Linked DNA regions of Homo sapiens: region 2 is reported to be linked to region 1. Evidence: microRNA targets listed by miRTarBase, many of them from high-throughput screens and not tested one by one. Region 1 holds a microRNA gene; the other region holds the end of a gene's coding sequence.

Region 1 (3,000 bases):
GGCTGAGAGCTTGAGGGCAGGTAGGAAAAAGGGCTGTGAGAGCTAAGGGAGGGCATCCCACTTAGCTTGGAGGGGAAGGGAGGCGGGGTCGGGAAAGCAGATGGCACCCTTTAGCCCAGACTCAAGGAATGTGTAGGGGAATTTTAGCTAGAGTGGTTTGGACATTTCATTTTGCTTTCTGGCATCATCATTTCCTCAGAAAACACTCGCAGGCCCCAGTGGCCCTCGTGGGCCTCCCCCGGGGCGGGTCTTAGCTTCACTCGGCAACCCTCTGCAAAAGAGCAGGCCCTCCCAGGAGCGCCGAGTCCTGTCTGCAGTTTGCTGATTTTCCCACCAGGGGCCGCTGCGCATGGGCGACGAAGCGCGCGGGTTCCCAAGCCGCAGAGAGGCGGAAGCCGATTGGTTGTCAGGCGAGGCGCGAGGGCGGAGCCTGGGAACTGGCCGGGAGTTGGGGGCTGGGAGCTCGCCCCCGGGCCGAGCCGGGTCAGGCTGTTGTCGCCTCAGGCAGCTCCTGGGAGGCTAACGTCGTGTCCTGGGCCTCTGTTTAGACAGCTCTAGAACTGAGGCGAGTGGAGCAGCACCAAGGCCCGGAGATCGGGGCAGGGCAGCTGCTGTCGCCGCCGCCGCAGGCCTGAGTTACCTGAGTAACTGCGGGTCAGGGACCCGCCCGACGGCCCGCGGTTGGCGCTGGAGACTCTCGGTGGGGAAAGGGAAGCTGGGACTTGATCCTTTGCGCGGGATCCTGGCAAAGACTAGCGCGGGCCGGGGGTCCGGGAGAGCCCGCTAGGGGCGGGGATTCCGGGGAGCCGTCTTCACCGGTTATTCCGGGATCCAGCTGGGCGCTGGGGCTGGCCCGGGCTTCGCTGGGGACCGGGCGGCGCGGGGCGGGCGCGGAGACGCACGCCCCCGCCCGCCCCGGGCCCGCCCCGCGCCGCCCGCCCGCCTGGAAGCCGCTGTCCTGGGCCTGGCCGGTGTGCGTCCGCCTGCTGGACCTGGGCACCGCCAGCCGCCTGGGCACGGGACTGGGCGGGGGCGCTGACCTCGGCCTAGGAGGCCCAGGATCCCGGAGACGCCCGCGCCCTCAGGACCCTGCGGGTCGCACGCCCTCCCCAGCTTCTGCTGCTCGCCGCTCTTCGGCAGGGCGAGGTCAGGTGCCCCCTTCTCGCCTCTCTTCTCTTCTCTTCTCTTCCTCCTCCACTTCTGTGCCCGCGGAGACTCCGGCCGCCCCCTTCCGCAGGGGTGTAGTAATCTGCGGAGCTGACAGCAGCCCCGCAGCCACCCTGCCCGAAGTCTCCGGAAGCGGCACGAGCTCAGGCCGCCGCAGCCCCGGCGGACCCACTGTTGGACCTGAGGAGCCAGCCCTCCTCCCGCACCCAAACTTGGAGCACTTGACCTTTGGCTGTTGGAGGGGGCAGGCTCGCGGGTGGCTGGACAGCTGCGGAGCCGCGAGGGCATCTTGCCTGGAGACCGTCGGCTGCACTCCCGGGCTCCTGGCTTTGCCTCTGGGATCCCGAGGTGTCCACATCAGACGCATGTTGACTGAGACCTAGAGTCATGGATGTATGCGTCCGTCTTGCCCTGTGGCTCCTCTGGGGACTCCTCCTGCACCAGGGCCAGAGCCTCAGCCATAGTCACAGTGAGAAGGCGACAGGAACCAGCTCGGGGGCCAACTCTGAGGAGTCCACTGCAGCAGGTAAGGCCTTGCTGCGGGCTGGACTGGGCTGGAGGCTTTGGCTCAGGACTGAGTGGCCCGAAGTGGGCAAGTTGAAATCTAGGTTTGTACATGTGAGGTTCATGGAGGATTCACACATGGCACTGCCTGTTCCAAGTAGTTCAAGAAGTTCTTTCTGGTCAGTAGTCATGGCAAATGCCTGTATCTTTCCTGAACAACTTTCCTCATCCCCCGCACTCAGGATTTTTTTTGTTGGCAGTAAGAAGAAGCCTTTGGGGCAACTTGACCTTTTAGATCAGCAAGGAAAGACCCCATCTTAGGCCTACTTGTCTGGAAGAATGGCCTGGTGAGATGATAAGTTCATTGCTCCTATTCGGTTTTAGTACTGAGCAGCATGGGGGAGGTTGGGGCCACTTATGTTGGAAAGGGAAAGTTAAGGCTGGGCCACCTCTGTTGCCTGAAAGCCTGGTGTTCAGGTGTGCCTATTCCAACAACCGTGGGAACCCTAGTCCCACCCTTCCCTTAGGTAGTCTTGTCTCTTTGCTGTGCGCATTTGAAATATCCAGGCGGTTTCTTAGATGGAATCCTATTTACAACTAGGGTGTTAAATGGCCTTTTCTTGACATAGACATGATATAATTCCTGGGACCACTTGTTGACTTATTCTGTTTCTTCTGACTGATGAGGGTGGGAATTCCATGCTACAGGTTTTTTTTTTTGTTTTTTTTTTTTTTTCCCTGAGTCTGCTTGCTAGGGAAACCATGCTACTTTTGATCTGTCATGGTTTTTCCTATGCAGTTGTGAAGGCTTATCAGGCAGCAGGAGCCCTGGTATACTTTTGCAGTAGAAAGGAACACTTTTATGTTTTGTTTTGTTTTTTTGAGACAGGGTCTTGATCTGTCGTCCAAGCTGGAATGCAGTAGTGTGATCACAGCTCACTACAGCCTCAAACTCCTGGGTTCAAGTGATCCTCCTGCCTCAGCCTCCCGGTAGCTGGGACTAAACACAAGAGCCACTGGGCCTGGCTAACTTTTTTTTTCTTTCTATTTTTAATTTTTTGAACAGACACTGTCTCTCTGTGTTGTGCAGGGATCCCTCCCAAAGTGCTGGGATTACAGGTGTGAGCCACTGTACCCATCAAGGAACTCTATTAAAATCCAGTCATTTTACATAAGGCTTACGAGATCAGTTCTCTTTTCCCATTTCTCTCACCCTTTGGCTGTGATCTGCCCAAAGCTGTGACCTGCAGTGTGGGGAGAGTTTATAGATGAGTTGTTTCTGAGCATAAGCAAGTTCAAATGAGGGAATGGCTCAGTGGGCACCTGCTG
Region 2 (3,000 bases), not on the chromosome of region 1:
TAAGTGGTTCCCATCTATTACAATGTAAATTAACACATTCTATGAAATGCCTTCTCAGTATCTGTTGAGAGTTCATATGATTCTTCTCCTTTAAACTGTTAATTTGATTGATGCATTTCCTATTAACTGAACTGGTTTGGCATTCTTGGGATGACTCTTACTATGTCACTCTTTGGGTATATGGCTGAATTCTATTTGCTAGTATTTTAACTATAATTTTTGTTTCTATATTCATGAGTAAGACTGGTCTGAAGTTTTCTTTTTTTTTTTTTTTTTTTGACGGAGTTTCGCTCTTGTCACCCAGGCTGGATGGCACGATCTTGGCTCACCGCAACCTCTACCTCCTGGGTACAAGCAATTCTCCTGCCTCATGCCTCAACCTCCCAAGTAGCTGGGACTACAGGTGTGTGCCACCACACCCGGCTAATTTTTGTATTTTTAGTAGAGATGGGGTTTCACCATCTCGAACTTCTGACCTCATGATCCACCTGCCTCGGCCTCCCAAAGTGTTGGGATTACAGGCGTGAGCCACCGCACCCAGCAGAAGTTTTCTTTTTTCAACTATCTGTATTTGATTTTGGTGTTAAAATTTATTCTGACTTAATAAAATAAATGAGTACAGTTCATGGATTGTATTACATCCATATAATAAATAACACTGGTATTACTCTTTCTTTAAAAGATAGAACTAAGCATGAACTCTTCTGAGCCTGGAGCATTTTCCCATTATAGATCTTTAATAGCTTTTTTGAGTTTTTCAATGTTAACTATCCTACCAAGTTTTCTACTTCTTATTGCAGTTTTCATAACTTAAGTTTATTAGAAAAGCATCCACCTCCTCTTTTTAAAAAATATGTTGATTAGAGTTGTATGAGGTATCTTTTTATCACTTAAAAAATCATATTGATATCTGTGGTTATGTCTCCTTTCTCATTCTGGATCAGGCAGTCTTACATGGAGGGAAATCTTGAAAAATGTAGATTCCACATGGCCATTTATTTTCTAATATGGATGACATAGCAACTCAGGGAAGCAGACTTCTTTCCAAACATTGAAATAATTAAAACCTTGGGATTTAGTGTCTAGGACACTTGCAAGGAAATTTATATGAAAAAAATGAATATTCTTGAATTAATTTGCAGAGGGATAGAGAGAAAAGAAATTCTCCTTCAGTGGTCTACGCATGAAACATTTCTGAGTTATACAACCTGTATATAGAATAGTGTATCTAGAATAGTGTAGCAATGCTACTAATTTGCTACAAGATATTTTAAGCAAGACTAAGAAAATATGAACAGTGTACTGTACACCAGGGTGACACTACATTTTGTCAAATAGTTTACAGTGTTTCATTTACCCAGTATCAGGTTCTTAAACTATTCCTTAGCTTGCATTTTTAATATAAATAACTACATTTTAGTAAAATTTTTGGCCAAATTATCCAAATACATTTAAAAACACTGCTTTATTATTTCTGCAGAGGACAGTAACAACCTCTATAGCCATTTACATGTATTACAAAAAGGTGGAAAAATGTAGCTGGTATAATAAAGTTCTTTTAACAATAGTGGGCCATGTTGTTGTTATTTTTTTGTATTGTTAAGACATCAAAAGACAATGATGATATTTAAAGTGGAAAAGTTTTCTGAATGGCATTCTATATGTTGTGTGACATGTGTCTGATATTCACATTTTATGTTAATTTCACATTTACAACTCCAAAATACAAATAATGCTGATTGTATGGCTCACTGTGGAATATACCAGAGTATGCCTTTAAGTCTCTTCACAGATATTTTGTATTCTGCTGTTATTCCATTTAATACATTTTTAAACGTTTACATGCCAGGGTGTCCATGCTTATGTTTGAGAAAGTATTTTCTAGAAAAGTTTGTATCACAATTAGATCATGATTTCCATTATGATACAACACTGTCGGTTGGGCGCGTTGGCTCATGCCTGTAATCCCAACACTTTGGGAGGCCAAGGGCGGGGGGTTGGGGGGTATCACGAGGTCAGGAGTTCGAGACCAGCCTAGCCAAAGAGACCAGCCTGACCAACATGGTGAAACCCCATCTCTACTAAAAATACAAAAATTAGCCAGGCGTGGTGGCAGGTGCCTGTAATCCCAGCTACTTGGGAGGCTGAGGCAGGAGAACTGCTTGAACCTGGGAGGCTGAGGTTACAGTGAGCCGAGATAGTGCCATTGCACTCCAGCCTGGGAAACAGAGAATACAACTCAAAATAAATAAATAAATAAAATAAAAACACACTGTTCAAATTCATTAAAATGATAAGATTTCTCCTAAGGATAAATTCCCTACATACCGGCCAGGCGCGGTGGCTCACGCCTGTAATCCCAGCACTTTGGGAGGACAAGGCGGGCAGATCACAAGGTCAGGAGATCGAGACCATCCTGGCTAACACGGTGAAACCCCGTCTCTACTAAAAATACAAAAAAAAAATTAGCCGGGCATGGTGGTGGGCACCTGTAGTCCCAGCTACTCGGGAGGCTGAGGCAGGAGAATGGCGTGAACCCGGGAGGCAGAGCTTGCAGTAAGCCGAGATCGCGCCACTGCACTCCAGCCTGGGTGACAAAGTGAGATTCCAACTCAAAAAAAAAAAAAAAAAATTCCCTACATACCATGAAACCAGATATTTTGCTCAAGTATTTCCCACAATTATTAAGTTTTCATTCCTGTAGGCATTCTTCCGAGCATGAATTTTCTGATGTCTGCTGAGGTTTGGCTTCTGGTAGAAAGCTTTCCCACATTCATTGCACCCATAGGGCTTCTCTCCTGTGTGAGTTCTCCAATGTTTATTGAGGCATGACTTCTGGCTGAAGGATTTTCCACATTCTCTGCAACGATACGGTCTTTCTCCTGTGTGCATTTTTCGATGTACATTGAGGTATGACTTCTCACCAAACGATTTCCCGCATTCACTGCAGACAAAGGGTCTCTCTCCTGTGTGTGTTCTCTGATGTTCTGTGCGGTGTGA

Evidence for each region. The annotated mature microRNA hsa-miR-4687-3p reads UGGCUGUUGGAGGGGGCAGGC and lies in region 1 at 1,397-1,417, shown strand. An mRNA with a match to its seed (bases 2 to 7 or 8) in the 3' UTR can be bound and repressed. Matches are read on the target gene's strand: a 7mer-m8 pairs with bases 2 to 8, a 7mer-A1 pairs with bases 2 to 7 and ends in A, and an 8mer does both.
Region 2: the mRNA of ZNF793 is a reported target of hsa-miR-4687-3p. The part of its 3' UTR that is shown has no 7-base or 8-base seed match.

What each region holds. Positions count from the first base shown.
Region 1 is chr11:3,854,717-3,857,716 of GRCh38, forward strand. It overlaps MIR4687 (microRNA 4687), which reads left to right and starts at 1,346; the gene lies at 1,346-1,425. It overlaps STIM1 (stromal interaction molecule 1), which reads left to right and starts at 948. Exons shown (of 13, transcript NM_001382567.1): 1 at 948-1,693. The coding sequence starts at 1,555. STIM1-AS1 (STIM1 antisense RNA 1) reads right to left here and starts at 862. Exons shown (of 2, transcript NR_183662.1): 1 at 641-862. RefSeq lists enhancers at 203-1,148, 1,364-1,573, 1,724-1,803, 1,814-1,863 and silencers at 334-383, 864-923, 984-1,143.
Region 2 is chr19:37,537,544-37,540,543 of GRCh38, reverse strand. ZNF793 (zinc finger protein 793) reads right to left here. Exons shown (of 8, transcript NM_001013659.3): 8 at 1-3,000. The coding sequence ends at 2,665. All of the region lies in intron 1 of LOC124904708, which reads left to right. Among named protein-coding and RNA genes, the nearest start is that of ZNF571-AS1, 9.9 kb to the left of the region's middle.